7 linked regions of the Homo sapiens genome follow. The protein of the gene in region 5 purifies or fractionates together with the protein of the main gene of each other region. This does not show direct contact. Each region holds a gene or a part of one and is shown on either strand. Other genes may lie near its edges.

Region 1 (3,500 bases), on a different chromosome or scaffold from region 5:
AACGTCCTCCCTAACTACCCCTCCCATTTCACAAGCTTCCCTCCCTGCTCTGCACACTTCTTGACACTGAATCTGTGGGTTTTATTTATCAACAGTGTTGTAAAATTATCTGTCTACATTCCTAAGTAGAAAATTGCCTTCTCTAGGTCAAGGTCAGTTTTTTACCTGTTGTTTCCCTGACTAGCACAATACTTGTATACACTCAATGTTAACAACTAAATAGATCATAAAACTAATTTTGGTATTAATAATGCACTAATCCACAGTGACAAACTATCTGTCCCAGAAGTTATTCGTAACAGTATAAATTTAATCATATATTTGTCATTTGGAATACTGATTCCTTTATAAAATAAGCCCAAAAAATAATACCTCGTTTCTTCACTGATGAAGGAGGAAGGAAGCTTGCTGGCATGGACCTCAGATGAGAATTGTCAGTGGCTTCTAAGAATGGTTCTTTCAGGTGATCTGCAATAAATCCCACCAACCCAAAGAAATGGGTCATAACACTTCAATTTCAAAGTATCACATATTTTCTTATCAAGTATAAACAAATGCCTACTATACATCTGTTATGGTTGTTACATATATCCCTTGTGATAAATCAAGAACTAATTATTTCATTAATAAAATTATTCATTAAGCACTTAGCTGTTAATGCCAAGGAATGACTAAGGAATCTAAGAGAACATTAATATAAACATACATACAACTGAATGAAAAAACAATGAGGCAAATTCAGATGAAATGAAACAGGGAGAAAACCACCTACCTTTCTTCCAAATGTTAACAGACTACTGTCATATTTAATATTTAATGTATTATAATCAATATATTCTTGTAATAATCAGATGAAATACACTACCAATTCACAAACAGCAGGAGGGTATGTACACTAGAAAAGGAATTCGAGGCCAGCCCTACCTCTCTGAGCTTCAATTTCTTCATCTATAAAAATGAAATGGTTTGATCAGCTCATCTCTGAGATACTTCCAAACAAGCTTTAAATTTCTGTGCTACTTATATAGAAAATGAACTGTCATACAATTCCCAGTGTGATCTGGGAATAGAGGAGCAGAAGCCTCTGTTAAAAATTATTCCATTCATATTAAGGAGTAGAATTTTGGTAATCTAACTAATATTAATATAAACCTACCAATGGTTTCTCTCCATAATTTCAGGGCACTCTACTCCAATTAACCTCTGGATTGGAAAAAAGAAAAAAAAAAGAAAAACCACCACATTTACAATAAAAGAAAAATAAATGCTAAAAATATCAGGTAATGGATGACCCTTTTCATAAATATTCATAATTTCCCCATCTGAAAGCTTCAAAAGTGGCTTAACTAAATGAAAATTTATTGAAATGTTTCCATGTACATGTTGAAAATGTCATTATTTAAAATCTAAGTTTGCCCACTTCATTTCACTTCATTTCTGTTAATAATTTGTTACTAAAGTGGTTTCACTTAGTTTAAAAAATAACTTGAAAAAAACGGAATATTTAAACAAAATGTACTCATACCAAAAATAGTTTCCTATTACTCTAATCATATCATAATTGACAATGAGGGTTTCCCTTCAATTTTATCAAAATTCTTAAATTTTTTTTACTTTTCTTTCCTATATCATCCCATTCTCAAAAAAAGATCCTAAAAACTGTACCATGAAAACTTTAGATTTGTGAAAAAGTAATTTTTATTAATGTTTTTACAAAGCTATCTAAATCTCATGAAGCCTTTATATTCAACTCAAAACTAACATGATCCTGAAGATCCCTTACAATTCTCACATTCTGCGGACAGGACATGTCTGTTCAAACAGGCACATATGAGCCAGACAGACCTGATATCAACCCTGGTTCTGCCATTACTAATAGTTTATACTTGGAGGAGCTAACTAATCTCTCTGAACCTTAGTTCTCCCATCTGTAAAATGAGAATAATGATAATGCCTACCTCACAGAGTGGTTACATAGATTAAATGAAATTATGTTTGCTAAACACTTTATAGTAAGCATTCAAGAAATGGTAGCTGTCATTACTACAAAAACCAAGCACAAAAATATTTAGGTATAAGAGATAAAGAATTCAGAGTCAGATTCGTGTCCAGAGACTACCTTTAAAAATACCATATATGCCAATAAAAACAATTATTCTAAAAACTATGCTATTATGTGACAAAAACATATCAAAACTTTTTTTTTTTTTTGAGACGGAGTTTCGCTCTTGTTGCCCAGGCTGGAGTGCAATGGCACGATCTCGGCTCACTACAACCTCTGCCTCCCGTTCAAGCGATTCTTCTGCCTCAGCCTCCTGAGTAGCTGGGATTACAGGCATGCACCACCACACTCGGCTAATTTTGTATTTTTAGTAGAGACGGGGTTTCTCCATGTTGGTCAGGCTGGTCTTGAACTCCCAACCTCAGGTGATCTGCCCACCTCAGCCTCCCAAAGTGGTGGGATTACAGGCATGACCTACTGTGCCCGGCCCGAAACTTTTTTTTATTAATTTGGGAGTTTGTTTTGCTGTTTTTAAGTGCTAGTTTAAATAGTTCAGTTCCAGAATATCTGGTTGACTGGATGAATGTTTCACCTGCCATCCTTATCTCTGGCCTATTTTAGACACAGCCTTTGTAAGAACTGAAGATGCTATTTCTTACCAGGTATTTGTGGGTAAATTTTTTCAACCATGTATTCTCTTAAATTCCTTGGCATTTCTCCTCTAATGTCAACAAGTACTCGAGTTTCACTGGATGAAATCTGGTAGATGAGAACTGGACTCGGGTTAGCTAAAATAAGTTCAGCATGATTTGCTTTAAACTGTGGTGCATTCTAAAACAAATAAAAAGAAAATGTTTTAATAATTTTCAAATTTCAAGTTTCTTTTATTGAAATTACAATAACACACTCCTACAGTACCTTCATAAGAAAGCCAACAAAATGAGATGATACAGAAACTTTATTGGAGACCAGGCTTTTCCTGAACTTGGAGAAAAGCCCATCTGCAACAACAGTCAGTGGAGCATGGAGTTCCTATAACAGAAATGAAGACTACTCAGTTTAGTAGTCAGAAACACACAGTAAAAAAAGCCATTCTTAAAAAATGTGCGTGAAGAGATTTAGATATATTATCAGATAGCATTATAGAGAGTAGTTGAAGATAATACTATTGAAGAAACTGTTACGTGGGCTTCAGATAACGCATGACCAGTGTTTAGATACTTCCTCTGAGTCCCTGAGGATCATCTCCCTTTGTAGCCCTCCCATGCAAACCATCTGGGATTACTCTCCACTTTGACAGACAATGGGGGAAACAACTACAAGGCAGGCATGTAACACAGAGCAGTCAATCTCATTACAAATTCAAGGGACTAGCCAGATTCTTTCATTCTAAAATTTCCTAACTTCATATAGTGCTTTTAGTCAGCAGCTAGGGCTTAGAAGAATTTTTGTACAAATGACTACATGTATTTATAATACTACAGTATGAGCAGAGAAA
Region 2 (2,939 bases), on a different chromosome or scaffold from region 5:
CACGACTCATTGTAACCTCAACCTCCTACACTCAAGCAATCCTCCCACCTCAGCCTCCCAAGTAGCTGGGGCTACAGGCATGTGCCACAGCACCCAGCTAATTCTTTATTTTTTGGAGAAACAGGGTCTGTGTTGCCCAGGCTGGTCTCAAACTCCTGGGCTCAAGTGATCCTCCTGCCTTGGCCTCCCAAAGTGCTGGGATTACAGGTGTGAGCCATCGTGCCATCACATGTGTGAGCCATCGTGTGAGTATAGGCCACACAGCTATACTTTTATCTTTAAAAAATGCTTTCACATTTTAGGTGGTTTTCAGTAAAAACAGCTAAGAAATATACCGTTATAAGACAATAGTGGCAGAGACTCACTTCTTCACTGATCTTTAAAATAAACCCAAACTCTTCTATGACCTTTGGTACGTCATTCCAATTAGGAAAAAGGGATATGAAAGCATTCACGAGTTGTGTTTCCAGAAGCTATTAATAATATACAAAAAACAGATACAGAGTTTTAGATATTATTTATTTTAAACTAAAGCAAATAACAAGTTAAGTGAAATTTGCAGTTTTCACTTTGCATTGTCTATTTAAAAGGCCTAGGTATTGGAGCTGAAATGCTGAAGAGGCTAAGTCAGGTATGTATTACAATTAGTATTGATATTCTATACATTAACCTTTTCTTAATAAATATTCACAGGGCATAAATTAAATCATTAATCTCACCATTTGAACATAACCCCAACATATACTTCAAATTTCTACCCAAATTAAACTGGATTTTCAAATCAGATGATCATATACAGTATATGAATTATAGTCAATTAAAATTGATTTATATATAATCCACAACCACACTATACACCCTTTTTGCTATCAAGGGAAAGTAAGAAGGAGGGAGATTAGAAAGCATTTTTATTCAAAAACACAGGCTCACAGTATGAATATTACAAGACTATAAAAGCAAGATCTTCTTGTATTTTGGAAACATATGAGAACATGTGTTCTTTTAGGTACACCTTTTCTGTATGATAAAGGCTTTGCAAATCAGTTTTGAGATTTTAAAGAGGGCTTTAAAGCTCAGAACAGTGAGACTTTTTTCTTTTTACAGCTATAGAAAAGTTCAAAAGGTAACTACTATATTTGGAAGTATTATTCACACATAGTGTCTTGCATAGAGTAGACCTTCAATAAAATATATGTGTTAACGAAGATTATACTTTCAAATGAAAGTAATATTTGCTTGTTTGTTTTTAAACAGATAGCCATCACAACTCAATGTAACTGCATGCACTTTCTTGTCGTCATTTGGAACCAGGCTTCTATCAACTACTATACTAGTCGAGGGGCTTTAGACCTTTCCTCTGAGGAGGGCTGGCATCTCTTCAGGTTTAACAGAGAAGAACTCCTGGACATGGCATGGGAAGAATGAAAGAGGCTTTGTAACAACTCATCCCAACACAGCCTCCAACATTTGACTGTCACCTGAGTCTAACAGCAGTTTGACTTTGTTGTACAATACAGCAAGTGATCATCACATTCTTGTTTGAGCAGATCTTTTATTTTGAAACAGATTTTGTAGCTCTAGTCAACTTTCCATTATCCAAACCAATATTCTAACGGCTAGTAGCAGTAGTGATAATCCAAAAGAGCAGATAATTTAAAAGTCACTTATACTTAGCTTTGCGCTATTTTTTACCTATCATATTTCATCAAAATTAAGGTGCTTTTCACAATTTGACATATCTGATGTCGGGATAAATGTAATGATCAACTGGCAGCATTTTTTGTTTGTTTGTTTTTAGAGGCAGGATCTTGCTATGTTGCTCAGGCTGGTCTCAAACTTTTGGCCTCAAGCAATCCTCCCACTTCAGCCTCCCAGACATAAGCAACTCTGCTCAGCATTTTTTTTTAAATTAAAGGTATATGATATGCCTTAGATTTGATGAAATATGGGTGTTTGAATATATTCAGATCTGAGGTTTAAAAAAATTCATTTCAAATACTGGAGATAAATTCTGAAGAGCTTACTTATGAAAAACTAGCAAGTAAACTGCTTCCCTACCTTGAGCAGCTTAAGTACCACTGCCTCCTTGACATCATCCCAGTACTACATTCTATCTCTGAACATCCATAGCTCTTTGGTTGTACTTATCTTAGGGAAGATACCACATACAACACTATATTTCTATGTTTCTCTCTTTCCTAGTAGAGTATAAGTCCTTTGAAATAATTCTAACTTTTGTGTCCTGTGCTGCAACCAGCATAGCAGAACGTGTGAGTTCCTACTACCTACCAGGCACTTCATGGGCATAGAAACTACACAAAAATTATTCAGTGATATCCACAAGGAACCTTGTCTGTGAGAAAATATTAATTACATAAATTGTGTAAAGTACCATATCTGTAAATACCAGCTATCACTTGCTAGTTTTTCATAAGTAAGCTCCTCAGAATTTATCTCCAGGATTTGAAATGAATTTTTTAAAACCTTGGATCAGATCTCAAACACACTCATATTTCATCAAATCTAAGACATATTATATACCTTTATTTTTTATTATTTATTTTTTGAGACTGAGTTTTGTTCTTGTGCCCAGGCTGAAGTGCAATGGCACGATCTCGGCTCACTGCAGCCTCCACCTCCCGGATTCAAGTGATTCTCCTGCCTCAGCCTCCCAAGTAGCTGGAATTACAGGCATGAGCCACCACGCCTAGCTAATTTTGCACTTTTTGCGTGTTTTTAGTAGAGACAGGGTTTCACTATGTTGGTCAGGCTGGTCTCAAACTCCTGACCTCAGGTGATTCACCCACCTTGGCCTCCCAAAGTGCTGGGATTATAGGTGTGAGCCACCATACCCGGCCATACCAAATACCTTCATTTTTTTAAAAAAGGCTGAGCACAGTCACTCATGTCTGGTTGGCTGAGGTGGGAGGATCGCTTGA
Region 3 (3,500 bases), on a different chromosome or scaffold from region 5:
GGGCTTGAGTAAGGAGGGATACCATTTCCTCCAGACAGCCCAGTCTAAAAAAATTGTATCCAAATGGATTTGGGTCCCGAGTCTGAAGAGTAAAGGTTCAGAAATGGAGGGAAACCTGTCTTTGAAAATAACTACTTCAAAAACTATAAACACCCTCAAGCCTGTAATCCCAGCACTTTGGGAGACCGAGGCAGGTGGATCATGAGGTCAGGAGTTTGAGACCAGCCTGGCCAAGATGGTGAAACTCCATCTCTAATGAAAACACAAAAATTAGCTGGGTGTGGTGGTGGACACCTGTAATCCCAGCTACTTGGGAGGCTGAGGCAGGAGAATCGCTTGAACCCGGGAGGTGGAGGTTGCAGTGAGCTGAGATCGTGCCATGGTACTCCAGCCTGGGCAACAGAGCAAGACTCCATCTCAAAAACAAAACAAAACAAAACAAAACTATAAACACCCCACTCTCCATATCTAGTACTGCTGAGATTTTAAACAGTCTGACTCCTTAAAATGAGAATGGGGAAAGCTGTTCAGTATATTTTGTAACACAAGGCAAAACCCAACAGAACTAATTTTGAGTTACAAAATATCACTATCATGGAACATTTTCCATCCCTCACCTAATCATACCAGGAATACCGGGGGAAAATAACCAGTTTTTCAGACTGGTTCACAGTTTACTTGATAACTTTTTATAATTAAAAAAAACCAGGCTGAGCACGGTGGCTCACACTTGTAACCCCAGCACTTTGGGAGGCCAAGGCGGGTGGATCACTTGAGCCTAGGAGTTCCAGACCAGCCTGAGCAATATAGCAAGACCCCGTCTCTACAAAAAATACAAAAATTACCTGGGTGTGGTGGTGCACACCTGTAGCCCCAGCTACTCAGGAAGCTGAGGCAGGAGGATCACTTGAGCCTGGGAGGCAGAGGTTGCAGTGAACCAAGATGGCACCACTGCTCTTCAGCCTGGGTGAGAGAGCAAGACCCTGTCTCAAAAAAACACTGAACATCTACTACATGCCGGATGCCAAACAAGTACTTTACATGTACTTTCTTGTTCTGTTTTATAATACTTTAACCAGAATAAGAATCTTTCTCTGCACTTTCTCAACTCAATAGCATCCCAAAATGTAAAAAGCATATTACCTAAGGGGCTGTATTGTCAAGGGGAAATAAAGGGAGACACAGTTAAAGAATCAGAAGACAAAATTATGCTCATCTGACATGCAAGCAGAAGCTCACACTTCAGTAAAAAATGTATATTAGATGACTGTGATTTTGGAGAAAACACAGATGAAACAACTAGAAAATAGGTCAAGACAACAGATGCTGAATGTCAAAATGGGTTGGGGGGCTGGCAAAGAGGGCACAGTTCTCCCTTCTAGACCATAAGTGCCTCTAAGGCAAAGACGATGTTTCCTATCTCCTCCCTTCTGTTTCATCACCTGTAAAATGTTTTCTAAGGTTTTCTCTAGCTTTACATTATGTGCATCAGCTGTTATAAGAGCTAATCGTAATTGTTAAGACATAGAACTGTAAAGAGGCGGGGGAAAAATGGCTAGGGCAGTGGTCCCTGTGCTGAACCCTAGCTCCTGCATCTAGATAGAAGAAAGGCGGCTGATCTTTAAGAAGCACCCCACGCTAGGCAGGCATTTTCAGATAGATTAAACCTATTTGCAAAATGCGGTAAGATCGCTAATTAGTCATCACTGCTTTCAGCTGAGAAGAGTGAGGCCATGGATTAACTAACATTCCAAAGCCCACAGACAGGCAGAGCTGAAATTCAAACCCAGATTTATCTGATGATACTGAAACCCACGTAGGAAGTATACACAAGCAAAGTTGTACATGAAGGGATTAACCTTGTGTTTGGATACAATAAAGAATTATCTAGCTAGAATGGAGAATTCATACAGGGGAGAAGACCAAGATATGTTTCAAGGTTCAGGGTGAAGCCAGTTCCAGGGGCAATAAATATTAGCATGAGGGTTTTTTTTTTTTTTTTTTTTTGAGATAGAGTCTCACTCTTGTTGCCCAGGCTGGAATGCAACGGCGCGATCTCGGCTCACCGCAACCTCTGCCTCCTGGGTTGAAGCGATTCTCCTGCCTCAGCCTCCTGAGAAGCTGGGATTACAGAAATGCATCACCACGCCTAATTTTTTTATTTTTAGTAGAGATGGGGTTTCTCCATGTTGGTCAAGCTGGTCTCGAACTCCTGACCTCAGGTGATCCACCCACCTCAGCCTCCCAAAGTGCTGGGATTACAGGCGTGAGCCACCATGCCTGCCGGGTTTCATCATTTTTAAACCAATGAATAGGTACCAGAGTCTGATTTAGAAGCAGGGGAAGTTTCCTAGAAACGCCTTAAAACTCCTCCTATCCTTTACTTCTTTGACCCCTTTTCACCAGCCCCTTAATGCACTAGCATTTAAGGGCTAGTGCCTCCCAGAATTCCACCTTTACCATTTTTACCTTCTCCTCTTCTCTTCCTGGGTGATCCTATCCAGTCTCTGGCTTCAACCTAAGTGCCAGTGTCTCCAAAATTTGCAATCCTGTTTCTCAATATATTCCTAAAAACCAGCTTCTCATTTTCAGTAGCTGACAGAGAAGCTTCATCTGAAATCCCATAACAATGTATGTACATTTCTCCTCCTCTGAAATCCAATTTATCTTCTGAAACTTGTTTTTCTTAAATCTCTCTTAATGGCAACAACATGGCATCAACAAGGAACCAGAAATGGGAAAGACCAGGCTTCAATTGCTCCTCTGGCACTTGATAGCTACAAGATCTTGGGCAAATAAATCAATGTGAGAAGACTCGGTGACAATATCTGTTATCTGCCTCCCTCATAAAGTTGTTGCATTAGTCAATTTTCATAATGCTATAATGAATTGCCCGGGACTGGGTAATTTATAAAGGAAAGAGGTTTAATTGACTTACAGTTCAGCATGGCTGGGAAGGCCTCAGGAAACTTACATTCATGGTGGAAGGTGAAGGGGAAGCAAGGCACCTTCTTCTTAAGGTGTCAGGAAGGAGCCGTGCCGAGTGAATAGCAGGGAAGAGCCCCTTATAAAACCAAAGGATCTCATGAGAACGAACTCACTATCAGGAGAACAGAATGGGGGAACCGCCCCCATGATTCAATTACCTCCACCTGGTCTCTCCCTTGATTAGCTTATGGGGATTACAATTCAAGATGAGATTTGAGTGGGGACACAAAGCCTAACCATATTAGTTGTTATAAGATATTTAATACTGGGCTGGGTGTGGAATCACAGCTGTAATTCCAGCACTTTCAGAGGCCAAGATGGGAGGCCAAGGCCTGATCCCAGTAGTTGAAGACCAGCCTGAGCAACTTGGCAAATCCTGTCCCTACCAAGAATATAAAAATTAGCCGGGTGTGGTGGTACATGCCTGTAGTTCCAGCTACTCGGGACACTGAGCATGACAGGTCAAGGCCACAGTGAGCTTGAACATGCCACTGCACACGCCAGCCTGGGTG
Region 4 (3,500 bases), on a different chromosome or scaffold from region 5:
GTAGTTGGGCATGCCTCCTCCCATAGGCCCCCTCCTGGCCCAGCTTACAATTAATGAGCACGATCTTGATCATGGTGATGACAAAGAAGGGCAGAGCATCCAGCTGCACCTTCACCAGGATGGCAGTGATCAGAAACACCAGCAGGATGGCCACCAGGCTGCCCAGGATCCGTACGGACTGGGGGATCCTGCCGGGAGAGGCCAAGGGTGGCAGAGACAAGTGGGCAAAGCTGGGGCTCAGCCAAGGGGGTGCAGGACACAGTGAGGGTCAGGCTGGGGGCTGGGGAGGGGGTGGGCACTCACCTCTGATGCAGGAAGGAGTTGAGGTAGGTGAATAACAGCAGGGGCAGCATGGCACATAGGGTCATGACATTGTTGAAGATGGCACTGAGAGAGTTCCGCTCAGGCAAGGGTGCTGCAGGGGCGGCTGACGCCTGGGCGTCCTTGCTCAGTTCAGCAGTGACCAAGGACACATTCTGGGACATGTCCAGGCGGTTTGTGAAATACTGCAGGGGTTGCAGAGAGGAGTGTTGAAATCTCTTTCCCTGTGCCTACCAGCACAGAGTCAGATCCTGCAAGCACAGTGGGCACTGCCCCATGGAGCCCAGTCCCTCCAGCCTCACCTGAGTGGCCGTCATGAAAAAATTCCACGGGAGCAGCGTTCCCAGACCCAGCATGAAGAAGATAAGCCAGACAGCTTTGTATCTGCAATGGAGGAGGAAAGATGGGCCAAATGACGCACCATCCTGCCCCACTCCACAATGAGCCCCAGGAAAGCCCCTGTCCGTTGTCAGTCTCTCTAGGTCCCAGGGCACAGGGCGTCTGTGTTTGTGTCCGTTTGCATGTGTCCTCTTATGGGTGTGGGGGGAGAAAAGGGTACATTGCTCGTTGGAATTTGGGGTGGGGATGGGGTCAGGGTCATAGGACTGAATGGCATGGCTGACAGGACCATGGTTATCAGCCCTGGAAGGCTCGGGGGACTCTGCAGGCTGGGAACCAGTGTGACCCACACATCCGGAGATGGTTTTGGAAATCCTGCCGAAGGGCAGGGGGTGGGTGGATGAGTGAGAAAGCAAGCAGCAAGTGTCTTCCACTCCCACCAGGCAGGCTGGAAGTAATTATGCTGTCTGGTCAGGGACTGTGTTACTCCCCAGAGAGGATTCTGAAGTTAAGAAACTCCCATACTATTCTGGACCTACAGGGCAGGTGGGCAGGGTGCCTCAGGGCCGCTGTGAAGAGAGGGCCTTAGAGCCATTTTCTTCCTGGCCAAATAGAACTTTGTAGTTCATACCACCCAGGGCAGGCCAGGAGGTATGGGGCCACTGGAGGCCATCTGGGCCTCAGGGTGTAAATAAGGACTGTCCACCTTTGGCCAGGGCAATGCCCCAAGCCCTATACCTCAAGGCCCTTCCGGGTCACGCCAGCTTCTCCCAGATAGGCCTTGCCTGAAAGCTGAGTAACCCCAGCCCGGCCCATGTAGATCTCCAGTTGGGTTTGCACACCCTCCCCAGAGCCAACACCAGCTCTCTTCAGAGATGGCAGGGATAAAGCCCAAGGCAGTGAGAAGACAGGCCTGGCCAGAGTGCAGGAGCCTGGACCGCTGGCAGGCCTCATACAGGGATGGCGTGGTGAGCACACCACGTGAGCAGGTCCGAGTTAATGCAACTGCAGCCCCCCCAACCCCCTCACATACATGCTTCCCTTGGAGAAGCTAAAGGCTTGGTTCGGAGGCCCAGAGCAGAAGGAAAAACTCCCAAAGTCACATAGGACAGAGGATCGGGGTTGGGGGGAGTACGCTGGGAAATGACTGAGCTGTGCAATAAGGCAAATGGAGCCGGCGAGGCCTTCAGGGAACTGCCCACAGGAGAGCGGAGGTGGGGACAGAATGGGCAGGCAGCCTGGGAATGGAGCACAGGAGGCAGGGAAGCAACCTGGGGCCTGGACTTATTGCCATGCCTCCTTAAATTCCCTTACTTCTAGATCCACTTCCTGGGAAGTAGATACTTTTAGCTTATTTTACAGGTGGAAAAACAGTCCCAGAGAGATTAAGCTACATGCTCAAAGCCCCCACAGGCAAAAGTGGCCTAGTTTCATAGCCTTTGGCACAGGAGGGAGATGGGGTGGGTAGGGCAGACGTGATGGGTTTCTGGGGCCTGAGTTGGAGGGCAGGACAGAGCCTGACGCTTTGAAGGAGCTTTGGATCTCAGGGATCACTTCCTCAGCCTTCTTGGGTCCCAGATCCCTTTGAGAAATTGAATTAAGCTACAGCCTCTTCTTCCAAAATACATATTCACAGTCATAACTGCAAGTCTAACTTGACTGGGAGTTCACAGGCTCCAGAGGCAGGGAATTGAGAGGAAGATCAGATCAAGAACCAGGGTGGGCCAGGTCATCTAAGGCAGAGGCCCCAGGGCAGTTCTGCCAGATGTGCATTGGAAGGAGGGGTGCAGCCAAGTATCTCCCCACAGTGGTGGCGGGAGGAGCCGAAAGCCGCTAACTGGCTGGAGAGCAACAGTGGAAACACAGACAGGCCAGGGAAGGACTGCTGCCCACGCACCCTGCCCTTCCCGCAGACACCCCAGCCAGCACCCAGCCAAGGCACACGGGGTCCCCACCCCTGATGCAGACCTGACTCATAGCTACCTGGCTGGAAGGCCAGCCAGCAATGGCAACCCCCAATTCCAAAGGACACCACACCCAGCTCCCTGAAAACCCATTCCCTGGATCCACAGCCCAGCCCCTTACCCCTTACCTGTCCTGAGGCTGGTGACTGGTTGTCATGGTGATGGTGTTCTCGGTTTTCCCTGGCTGACAGCTCCCTCCCTCAGGGGCCTGCTGGGGGCAGGAACAGTGTGAGGCCCTGTCTTGGCCCTGCCATAGGCCTCCTCAGGCTCTTAGGGGGAGAGGGGGCAGGGCTGACAGAACAGGCCAGTGGAGGAGTCCAGTAAGACCCCCTCTGCACCCTGCCCCTCAGGACGACTCAACTTGACCCCCACCCAGCCCCCTGGCCCAGCAGGCCAGTCCTGCGCGGCCCCCCTGCCTGCTCAGACTCTACCTGGCTCCCGGCCTGGCCGCTGCCACCGCTATTTTTATCCAGCAGCCGAAGCAGTTTATAAGCTGGGAAACAGGAGGGTGGAGAGCAGGAGGGAAGGAGGAGGAAAGATGATGGGAGGGAGGGAAAGACAGTCAAAGAAGGCAGGCAAGAGGACGAGAGGGGTCAGGGACAGTGATGACAAGGGAAGGAGGGAGACAAATGGAGGAGACACAGCAAAGAGGTCGGGGGAGGAGGAGGAAGGACACGGAACAGGCAGATCTGCAGCAGCTGCGACAACATCGATGATGACTGAGGTCAAACCAGAGGCTCCCCAGGCCCCTCTCTGCAAGTCTGGTCTCTCCACCCTCCCTGGGGAGCCCCTGGATTCATGGCTAGAGTGGGGCTGTCCTCTCCTGAAGGCAACCCAGATTCCAGTCTCTCTGCTGTTGGCACCTTAACCTTTCTT
Region 5 (3,500 bases):
TTCAAACTTCAAAGACGTAATCATTATTTAAAAAACACATTTGGTTAATTAAGTCAAACAGTGATTTAATTCAATGACAAATTCAGTTGAATTATTTTCCATTGTATAAATAAAATAGCTGGCTATTTAACAGAACTTTCGCATTGTATAAATAAAATAGCTGGCTGATTGACAGAACTTTTCATTTTCAACTGGAAATACAGGCATCATATATAGGTACAAAGCTGGAATCGAATGAGCTGATGATTACTTTTTGAAGATTATGAACATTTCATTCTTTCCACTTAAAATCACTAAAAGAAAAAAGTCTTACATGCAACTGCTATCACACACCTGTCACTTTAACACTACAGAAAATGTCAGTATTTTCTGTACCCAAATTATGTTCTTTCTGCCCAGAATGCACTTTCTTGGAGTACAAAGAATATTCCTTAATGGTTTATATTGTTTTATAAATTCTTCTGTTCTACTCATTTATCCTTCCATTTTTACTGTTTTTTTTCTCTGTTTTACATTTTCAGTGCTTAGAAAAATCAAATAGAAAAGCCACCAAGCTTACCATTTCAACCAAGGATAAATATAAGAACATCCCAGCAGTGACTGTGAAGATCCAGTCTTGAACACATGGATCAGCTGACACGGAAAGGCCAATGTATAATCCCATGAAGGCAGTTAGGGAGCTTATAAAATTCATCAGGATGGCAGTCTTCATAGAAAGTCCAGAGCTTAAGAGCACGGCAAAGTCTCCTGAAGTTTAAGAGGAAAGGAAAATATAATTATCATTTAATGGAAGACGCCTTTGCTAAAGTAACGCACTATTAGCTATTTCGAATGTCAGCACTGGAACCAATTTTATAGGTAGAGTTGAGTGATCAGTAAATAAAATGCTTTCCTATATTTCTCTAGAATTCATAGCCCATTCATCGTACTATTAGGAAGTTGCATTTCAAGAGTTCCATTCCTTTGGCTGCTCCTAAAGATTGTATCTACAGAGAGGTCTGTGACATATTCTTGAGTTCTTGATATCCTCTGACATTTCCAACTTAGATAAATGGAAAATAGTCACTCACTGTCCCAGGGTTTCTAAATCTTTGGGCCTGGAAATTTGCCAGGTGAAATCATGACACTATATGGGCTTTTATTATTTACTTATGCAGAAACTGCTGTGGGGAGAGAAAACTACTTAATATGAGATTTTTAAAGCATTGTAAAAGTTGGTTAGGAAACAAATTTTTCCCTTTAGAAAATGATTATAGGAAAATGATCTCATTCTCTCCATGCCTTCCCTCCAAGAGAAGATTGACCTGTTAGTAAATCTGAGAACATCTACTTCTTAGTTTGGGGGATTGAGACTAAAATTCAATAGACAGCTTGGGGACCCAGTTTTCTAGTTCCATTGCATAATTGTTCCCATGAACGGGGCTTGAAACATCTCTGCTGGCCTGCTGCAGACGGTCACACTGCCCTGTGGCTTTGGGTTGAGGACTGGGGGCTACATCCCTGTTACAGTAGCAAAACTCAGGACCACAGATAGGGGATGGCTTCCAGACCAGGTGCACTTTAATGAGCCCAGGGAGGACCTTGGATAAACTGCTCCAAGAAGGATAGGTCAATAATGAGTCAGTGTCAGGACTTTGAGCAACGGACTCCAAGCACAAGAGGGCAAGCGTTTCCTAGGGGCAATGTAGGTGCGAAAGTGGAAGCAGAGAGACTGCGAAGAGCCCTCTCCCTTGGGAGCCTATGCCAGACCAGCCTCTACTATTTCTGGGTCTGTTTCAGAAACGTCTGTTCTAACCCATCTTGCGTCCTGGGAGGCAAAGAACAGGGCTATATTGTTCTCACTTATTTGTGGGATCTAAAAATCAAAACAATTGAATTCATGGAGTTAAAGAATAGAAGAAGGTTACCAGAGGCTGGGAAGGGTAGTGGGGTGGTAGGGGAAGGTGGAGGTGAGGTAAAGATGGTTAATCACTACAAAAAAAAAAAAAAAAATAGAATGAATAAGACCTAGTATTTGATAGCACAACAGGACGACTACAGTCATCATAATTTAATTTGTACATTTAAAAATAACTAAAAGAGTATAATTGGATAGTTTGTAACACAAACAATAAATGCTTGAGGGGATGGATACCCAATTTTGCATGATATGATTCTTACGCATTACATACCTGTATCAAAACATCGCATGTACTCCATTAATACATACAACCACTATGTACCCACAAAAATTAAAAGAAAAAAAGTTACAGGGCAACTAAGATTATCCAGAAAAAGAGATTTATGAGAATCTGCCACCACACACCTGTCATTTCAATGCTAGGCTTGGCTTTAAACATTTTGTATAAGTCAGGTTGATGAAACCATGGTTTGGTTTTTTGTTTTTGTTTTTGTTTTTCTTTTTGAGATGGAGTCTCACTCTGTTGCCCAGGCTGGAGTGCAATGGCTCAGTCTCAGCTCACTGCAACCTCCACCTCCTGGGTTCAAGCGATTCTCCCACCTCAGCCTCCCAAGTAGCTGGGGTTACAGGCCTGGGCCACCACACCTGGCTAAGTTTTTGTTTTTAATAGAGACGGGGTTTTACCCTGTTGGTCAGGCTGGTCTTGAACTCCTGTCCTCAGGTGATCCACATGCCTCGGCCTCCCAAAGTGCTGGGATTACAGGTGTGAGCCACTGCGCCCGGCCGGTTTTAATTTAAATGTTATTTTATCTTACTGGCCCATGTGCTGACATGATGGATAAAGTTCCCCTCCTAATATTTTTCTCACATTTAATATGCAGATTTTAAAGTCCCCATCAAAATTCTTTAAAATATTTCTCTGAATGACTGTCTCCCATATGGAATTCTCTGGAATCCAAATAGAGTCATTTCTGGCCCTGGGAAACATCATAAAGGAGTTTAACTGGATTTTATTCCAAGGTACAGGAGTTATTTTTCTAGTCCTCCTCTTCTTATGGTTTAAATAAATTATAAAAGGAAAGTATTCATCTTTAAGTCATAGGTTAGAAAAAGAATCCTAGTAAACCATAGCTGGAAAGATGTTATTTCTTTCTCAACAGGCCAGAAACAGTAATTCCATTGTTGAACTTACCCATTTCATGTGGGATTTCATGACACAAGATAGCAATCGTAGTGGTCACTCCTGACTCGGATGATGATGAGAAGGCTGCTCCTATGGCTAGGCCATCTGCAAAATTATGCAGGCTGTCCCCAACCAGAATCATGATTGCTAACAAGCTAATGGCTTTACCTAAGGAACCAAATAAACACAGAAGAAGCATTAACAGAGCACTACATATTTCACCAAATCCTTCAAAACCAACCAACCTTCCCACCTACACTTGACATTCTTATATTCCATCTGATTAAATAACATCACTTTGTTTCCGCAAAAGTCAGGACTAGAGATTCAAGTGTGATAACCAACACACTTAAACGTATGGTCACTGTTTTGCTAACTGGTCTAATGAGATAAATTACATGCTGGCATAAATGATTT
Region 6 (3,102 bases), on a different chromosome or scaffold from region 5:
TGGCCAAAACCCTTGCAGTTGGTCTATTCAAATGCTGGGGTCCTGGGTGCTGTTGCCGTGACTTCAGCTTCTCCTGAGACAGGTTGAAGCCCAGTCTCTTAATGCAGGTCATATTCTTGTGTGTAGCCTGTGGGCCTCCTATGTCGGAATCACCGAGGCATCTTGTTGAAATGCAGATTTCTGAGCTCCCTTCAGTCCCTGAAGTGGATAAGTCAGTCCCTGGTGACTTATCCAACCAGAATTTCCAGGATCAGGGACCTGGAATCTGTTGTTAGGCACACTGAAGTTTGAGAACCACTGAATCAGTGATTTCAGTATTTCCTAAAATGCTTTTGTGCCATCATATGAAATATCAGTTTTCCAACTGGTCCTAGTGAGTTTTGTTTTAGATGTTTGTTTTACAGTGGAAAGGGAAATGATAGTCTGTGGCGGTTATTTGTTGCCCACTGATATCGCCCCAGGACCTACAAATGGAGCCTCCTTGTTAGGAGGCAACTGGAGATAGTGATCTTACTGTCTTCTTCCAGTTACTTCAGACCATATGCTGTCCTCCACATTTAGTTGATCTCCAGTTCTGCCTGGGTGTTTGCTGTTTGCTACCCTGTATCTTTAGTTCTCTTATTCTTCTAGGAATGATTGCTCAAAGATCATTCATCAGAGGACCAACACAGTGCCCTTTGACCTGGTGCCCCACGAGGATGGCGTGGATGTGGCTGTGCGAGTGCTGAAGCCCCTGGACTCAGTGGATCTGGGTCTAGAGACTGTGTATGAGAAGTTCCACCCCTCGATTCAGTCCTTCACCGATGTCATCGGCCACTACATCAGCGGTGAGCGGCCCAAAGGCATCCAAGAGACCGAGGAGATGCTGAAGGTGGGGGCCACCCTCACAGGGGTTGGCGAACTGGTCCTGGACAACAACTCTGTCCGCCTGCAGCCGCCCAAACAAGGCATGCAGTACTATCTAAGCAGCCAGGACTTCGACAGCCTGCTGCAGAGGCAGGAGTCGAGCGTCAGGCTCTGGAAGGTGCTGGCGCTGGTTTTTGGCTTTGCCACATGTGCCACCCTCTTCTTCATTCTCCGGAAGCAGTATCTGCAGCGGCAGGAGCGCCTGCGCCTCAAGCAGATGCAGGAGGAGTTCCAGGAGCATGAGGCCCAGCTGCTGAGCCGAGCCAAGCCTGAGGACAGGGAGAGTCTGAAGAGCGCCTGTGTAGTGTGTCTGAGCAGCTTCAAGTCCTGCGTCTTTCTGGAGTGTGGGCACGTTTGTTCCTGCACCGAGTGCTACCGCGCCTTGCCAGAGCCCAAGAAGTGCCCTATCTGCAGACAGGCGATCACCCGGGTGATACCCCTGTACAACAGCTAATAGTTTGGAAGCCGCACAGCTTGACCTGGAAGCACCCCTGCCCCCTTTTCAGGGATTTTTATCTCGAGGCCTTTGGAGGAGCAGTGGTGGGGGTAGCTGTCACCTCCAGGTATGATTGAGGGAGGAATTGGGTAGAAACTCTCCAGACCCATGCCTCCAATGGCAGGATGCTGCCTTTCCCACCTGAGAGGGGACCCTGTCCATGTGCAGCCTCATCAGAGCCTCACCCTGGGAGGATGCCGTGGCGTCTCCTCCCAGGAGCCAGATCAGTGCGAGTGTGACTGAAAATGCCTCATCACTTAAGCACCAAAGCCAGTGATCAGCAGCTCTTCTGTTCCTGTGTCTTCTGTTTTTTTCTGGTGAATCGTTGCTTGCTGTGGACTTGGTGGAGGACTCAGAGGGGAGGAAAGGCTGGGCCCCGAGTACAACGGATGCCTTGGGTGCTGCCTCCGAAGAGACTCTGCCGCAGCTTTTCTTCTTTTTCCTCATGCCCCGGGAAACAGTCTTTCTTCAGAATTGTCAGGCTGGGCAGGTCAACTTGTGTTCCTTTCCCCTCACCTGCTTGCCTCCTTAACGCCTGCACGTGTGTGTAGAGGACAAAAGAAAGTGAAGTCAGCACATCCGCTTCTGCCCAGATGGTCGGGGCCCCGGGCAACAGATTGAAGAGAGATCATGTGAAGGGCAGTTGGTCAGGCAGGCCTCCTGGTTTCGCCACTGGCCCTGATTTGAACTCCTGCCACTTGGGAGAGCTCGGGGTGGTCCCTGGTTTTCCCTCCTGGAGAATGAGGCGCAGAGGCCTCGCCTCCTGAAGGACGCAGTGTGGATGCCACTGGCCTAGTGTCCTGGCCTCACAGCTTCCTTGCAAGGCTGTCACAAGGAAAAGCAGCCGGCTGGCACCCTGAGCATATGCCCTCTTGGGGCTCCCTCATCCAGCCCGTCGCAGCTTTGACATCTTGGTGTACTCATGTCGCTTCTCCTTGTGTTACCCCCTCCCAGTATTACCATTTGCCCCTCACCTGCCCTTGGTGAGCCTTTTAGTGCAAGACAGATGGGGCTGTTTTCCCCCACCTCTGAGTAGTTGGAGGTCACATACACAGCTCTTTTTTTATTGCCCTTTTCTGCCTCTGAATGTTCATCTCTCGTCCTCCTTTGTGCAGGCGAGGAAGGGGTGCCCTCAGGGGCCGACACTAGTATGATGCAGTGTCCAGTGTGAACAGCAGAAATTAAACATGTTGCAACCAAGTGCTAGCCTGTTGCTTTGTTAACAGGAGTTAAATGGCTAAGCCTAAGTGTCCCCAGGATGGGATTGAATCCCTGCCACAATGGAGTGAAAGGTGGGGGAGTTTGAGGCCTCTGTGTTCTTTTCCTCGGCTATAGTGGTTTGGGGCTCCCCCAGATGGGGTGATGCAGAGGCCGGCCGGGATGCCTGCCCCCTGGGGAGGAATCTGGACAGCCCACCCGTGGGTCATATCTGGCCTTGCTGACCATCTTTGAAGTCTGTCCCGACAGCCTACAAATCAGGGCAGTGAGATTTCACCTGCTGGGAGAATGGGATGGGGATGGGGTGCTGGGGGACAGCAGAGAGGAAATGAGCATTTAGCAATACTGTGTATGAGGTACTGTGCCGTGTGCTGTTTCAAACTCATTTCAGAGTGAGTTCATCCTCACAAAACCCCTGCAGGCCGAGTCCCGGTGTCTGTGCTGTACAGGTGAGGAAGTAGGCCCAGAGGGTACATTCACTG
Region 7 (3,500 bases), on a different chromosome or scaffold from region 5:
GTGACAGAGCAAAAGAAAAGAAAAAAAAAATAATTTTAAAATATATAGCTAAAGCAATGCTAACAAATCTACAGGGTAATCTCCTATAGCTACATATTGTTCATGGAAGCTATTTTGAGGTCAAGGAGAAAGCTTTAGCTGAATTAAAATATCTCGAGTCCTAGTAATATGTTCTCAGCCAAACCATGCAGCATCATACGATCATGCCAATATACTGAAAAGTTTGTCACCTGGTCAGAGAGTGTAAGCGGAGAAGAATATCCAATCCTGCAGCCATAGGTAAAGCAAGATATCTCTGCTGTCAGTTCTAGCACATGAGCCAAAGGCAAGTAGCCAATATATGTGTCCTTCGGTCTAAAACAAAATAAGAGAAATATTTTAACCATTCTTGAAAAGGCATTTGAAGTTAGAAATACCAAGAGCTTTATCATTTTAATATAGATTGAGTTTAGAGAATGCTGAACATGAACTCTGATTTCTAAGAAGAAAGTTAAAGAATTATCTTACCCCAGTCCAGGTATTCTTTCACACTGGCCTGTCATTCCAGCTATCAAATTGCTATGATGCATCATCACTCCCTTAGGTCGGCCAGTAGAACCACTAGTATACATAACAATGGCCATGTCTGAAGGCGTTGGTCTACTTGGAGGAATGCCCACTAAATGAATGAATGAAAAATATCACATTTACTTCAGTTCAAAAGTTAAATTACTAAAGAATAATAGGATATTTAGATTTTGCATAACGATAAGCTATCAATAGACAGTATTTGCTTTAAATCATCAAAACGAGCTGGGTGAGGTGGCTCATGCCTGTAATCCTAGTACTTTGAGAGGCCAAGGTGGGAGGATCACTTGAGCCCTGGATTTCGAGACCAGCCTGGCCAACATGGCAAGACTCTGTCGCTACAAAAACTAAAAAAGTTAGCCGGATGCAGTGGCATGCACCTGCAGTCCTTGCTACTCAAGAAGATAAGGCAGGAGGACTGGGTGAGCCTAGCAGGTTGAGGCTATGGTGAGCTATGGTCATACCATTGTGCTCCAGCCTGGGCTAGAAAACAAAAATGTTTATCAAATTCTGATTACAGTGAGCATTTTGGACTCAATTTGGCCCATTTTCTGGATGTTTAACCTAATCTCTGTCTGTGCATTGCCTCTCCACAGTGTTGTATACAGAGCAATGTTGTGGAAAGATTTCTGGGACTTTGGAGTATCAGGAGGACAGAGTATGTGTATAAACTTCTTAGGCCTCAGTTTCTCATCTCTAAAATAAGACAGCTGGACAGATTGTGGTTACTAACCACTAGTGGGTATCAGAATCACGTGCAGAACTTAAATAAAATATTATTTCTGAACCCCCTTTCTGAAAATTCAGATTCAATATGTCTGGGATAGAACAAAGCTCCACAAGTGATTCTCATATATGCCCCTGATTGAAAACCACTGGATCTGATCTTTAAGGTGACTTCAATGCTAACATTTGAAGGTGATAAGTTTTAAACAGAACCCTGGAGCTTCCACTTTCAAGACAGTGTATAGTGCTAGCCTAGTAACCACTTTTCCTTCCGAGAATATACCAAAATGGCTAAGAAGCCACATATATATCATCAGAATGAAATACAAGTTTAACAGGATTATCACATTTAAAAATCTTTACACAAATTATTTACATTTTTATATACCAGTTAAAATAACATTTTTTTAAAACAGTGAGCTATACCACTGAAACAAAGATAGTTACACTTAAACTGGCTAATTTTAATGCTTTTTAAAGATATAGTCATAGTTTATAAACCAAGCAAATAAGGACTGCATATTTCCTCTGATGATTAACCAAAGCAACAGCAGTAGCTAAATTCTTCTTAATCTAAGCACATGTGATACTTTGCTTCTGCCCACTTTTAAGTAAATATGCAAAAAAGTGGCATCACAATAACTGTCTGTACCACAAAAACATATGTATCCTATCTATTGCAGACATGAGTAGAACTAAGTGGGATATGTGGCCTATTACATTATTGCTCACACAAAATTATGAAGACTGCTGACCCCTTAGCTTGCTGCCAACACCCTTTGTGGTCAATCAGCAGAACTGTAACTGATCCCTACCAATCAGGACTTCTCAGTCAAGTTTATCCCAATCTTACAGGGTCAACCTAGTGTAGAAAAACAATTCTCTATGGGTCTCATGTTCTGCACATCTTGCAAGCAGAGACATTGACTTTGTTCCAGACTATCTTTACAAGGATATTTGCACAGAGATAGTGTCTCTCCCCAGAGCAAACAGCAGGCATGCTTACTGTCCAGTACAATAAGATAATAAGATATTCAGGCTCTTTAAGCTCAGAGTTCCTCTCTTATGACACAAATGCTGATATGATACTCTGGCTACTGCTATTGTTGTGAGTAAAAAACTGTCCCTCATCTCAGACCCAAAAGTCTATGGCACCAGGAAGTTTTGCAGGCTCATCTGTTTGCCGGCAAGCAGGGTAAAATCTGACTCTCTGCCATTCTGGACACATGGCAGATGTGTATAATAACACCTGTTATTATAAACGCATGCTCATTCTCTAATGGTAAAATGTTCAGAAGCTGAGTAGAGGTTCGACCAACATTTTCTCCTGCAAAAATGAATCCTTTTCTCATTATAGTATGGTATTTTGACCATCGCATTAAACATAATAAGAAAACTCTTCAAATGGAGTATTAATTTCCTCAACTCTCTGCCCTGATGGCCAACTGACATTTTGCTACAAGGTACACTTACTTGTTTCAAATGAAATACCAACTACCACCTCAGTGGTAAAATAAATCCAAGCATTAATCTTGGTAAACAGCTTTGCATCCTCTGAAACATCCTTAAGATAACTAGCATTAAGCATTTATTTCAGAAAGTTTACTGAATGGAAGGCCTGAAATATTTTTCTTTTATGAGGCCCAAATTGGAAGGTTATAGTGGGTTATTTAAAAAATGAAGAAACATTTGGCAGCAACTGCCATGAAGTCTGAACCACAGATTACATCTCAACCACTTAGTGAAATTTACTAACTTATTTTTTTTGAGGAGAAATGGAGGGAAAATCTTAATCATATATGGTCTTGATGGTTTTTAAAGATTTTTGAACTTTTTTTTTTCAGTCAAAGAACTTTTGTGGATTTACTCATGTCATTTGTTTCCCTAACCTACCAAAATAACAAACTTGGAATAGGTAAATAAAATTGTTTTTACTGCTTTACTTACAGTTTTCTGGGTTAGATCCCAACTCTTCTACTGATTGCATGCTGTGAATCTCAAATCCTTCAGGGTACTCTGCTTTATTGATAGCCTTATTGTCCACATAAATGATATGTTTAACACAACTGATATCTAACAATGCAGTCTGTTGAGCAGAAAGAAAAAAAAACAGCTATTAAACTTAAGCCTGCAACAAAAATTCACTTACTGAATGAATATTTTTCTGTCCTGCCAGACAACGCAACCATGAATTAAAAGAAAATTTC

The links.
Region 1: the proteins of SLC39A12 (region 5) and SQLE purify together in Homo sapiens (affinity purification with mass spectrometry; 3 studies listed by BioGRID and IntAct, with this or other methods). This does not show direct contact.
Region 2: the proteins of SLC39A12 (region 5) and APOOL purify together in Homo sapiens (affinity purification with mass spectrometry; 2 studies listed by BioGRID and IntAct, with this or other methods). This does not show direct contact.
Region 3: the proteins of SLC39A12 (region 5) and ADPGK purify together in Homo sapiens (co-immunoprecipitation; 3 studies listed by BioGRID and IntAct, with this or other methods). This does not show direct contact.
Region 4: the proteins of SLC39A12 (region 5) and SLC29A1 purify together in Homo sapiens (affinity purification with mass spectrometry; 2 studies listed by BioGRID and IntAct, with this or other methods). This does not show direct contact.
Region 6: the proteins of SLC39A12 (region 5) and MUL1 purify together in Homo sapiens (affinity purification with mass spectrometry; 3 studies listed by BioGRID and IntAct, with this or other methods). This does not show direct contact.
Region 7: the proteins of SLC39A12 (region 5) and ACSL4 purify together in Homo sapiens (affinity purification with mass spectrometry; 3 studies listed by BioGRID and IntAct, with this or other methods). This does not show direct contact.

The regions. Positions count from the first base shown.
Region 1 is NC_000008.11:125,008,505-125,012,004, reverse strand, and holds part of SQLE (squalene monooxygenase), read right to left. Parts: intron 3,035-3,500; coding exon 2,921-3,034; intron 2,834-2,920; coding exon 2,662-2,833; intron 469-2,661; coding exon 373-468; intron 1-372. UniProt on the Homo sapiens protein: Catalyzes the stereospecific oxidation of squalene to (S)-2,3-epoxysqualene, and is considered to be a rate-limiting enzyme in steroid biosynthesis.
Region 2 is NC_000023.11:85,090,877-85,093,815, reverse strand, and holds the end of APOOL (MICOS complex subunit MIC27 precursor), read right to left. Parts: 3' UTR 1,426-2,939; coding exon of another isoform or gene 1,255-1,425; 3' UTR 632-1,254; coding exon of another isoform or gene 591-631; 3' UTR 501-590; downstream 1-500. Other genes in the region: SATL1 (spermidine/spermine N(1)-acetyltransferase-like protein 1), read left to right, coding at 591-631, 1,255-1,425. UniProt on the Homo sapiens protein: Component of the MICOS complex, a large protein complex of the mitochondrial inner membrane that plays crucial roles in the maintenance of crista junctions, inner membrane architecture, and formation of contact sites to the outer membrane.
Region 3 is NC_000015.10:72,777,259-72,780,758, forward strand, and holds part of ADPGK (ADP-dependent glucokinase isoform 4 precursor), read right to left. Parts: intron 2,957-3,500; exon of another isoform or gene 2,939-2,956; intron 1-2,938. UniProt on the Homo sapiens protein: Catalyzes the phosphorylation of D-glucose to D-glucose 6-phosphate using ADP as the phosphate donor. GDP and CDP can replace ADP, but with reduced efficiency.
Region 4 is NC_000006.12:44,226,595-44,230,094, reverse strand, and holds part of SLC29A1 (equilibrative nucleoside transporter 1), read right to left. Parts: intron 3,086-3,500; exon of another isoform or gene 3,056-3,085; intron 2,836-3,055; coding exon of another isoform or gene 2,782-2,835; coding exon 2,753-2,781; intron 706-2,752; coding exon 624-705; intron 507-623; coding exon 304-506; intron 189-303; coding exon 49-188; intron 1-48. UniProt on the Homo sapiens protein: Uniporter involved in the facilitative transport of nucleosides and nucleobases, and contributes to maintaining their cellular homeostasis. Functions as a Na(+)-independent transporter.
Region 5 is NC_000010.11:18,000,418-18,003,917, reverse strand, and holds part of SLC39A12 (zinc transporter ZIP12 isoform 1 precursor), read right to left. Parts: intron 3,252-3,500; coding exon 3,093-3,251; intron 2,133-3,092; exon of another isoform or gene 748-2,132; coding exon 560-747; exon of another isoform or gene 522-559; intron 1-521. UniProt on the Homo sapiens protein: Uniporter that promotes Zn(2+) import from the extracellular space to the cytoplasm across the cell membrane. The transport activity is temperature dependent. May play a role in neurulation and neurite extension.
Region 6 is NC_000001.11:20,498,948-20,502,049, reverse strand, and holds the end of MUL1 (mitochondrial ubiquitin ligase activator of NFKB 1), read left to right. Parts: intron 1-630; coding exon 631-1,360; 3' UTR 1,361-2,602; downstream 2,603-3,102. UniProt on the Homo sapiens protein: Exhibits weak E3 ubiquitin-protein ligase activity. E3 ubiquitin ligases accept ubiquitin from an E2 ubiquitin-conjugating enzyme in the form of a thioester and then directly transfer the ubiquitin to targeted substrates.
Region 7 is NC_000023.11:109,677,758-109,681,257, forward strand, and holds part of ACSL4 (long-chain-fatty-acid--CoA ligase 4), read right to left. Parts: intron 3,380-3,500; coding exon 3,241-3,379; intron 659-3,240; coding exon 508-658; intron 355-507; coding exon 231-354; intron 1-230. UniProt on the Homo sapiens protein: Catalyzes the conversion of long-chain fatty acids to their active form acyl-CoA for both synthesis of cellular lipids, and degradation via beta-oxidation. Preferentially activates arachidonate and eicosapentaenoate as substrates.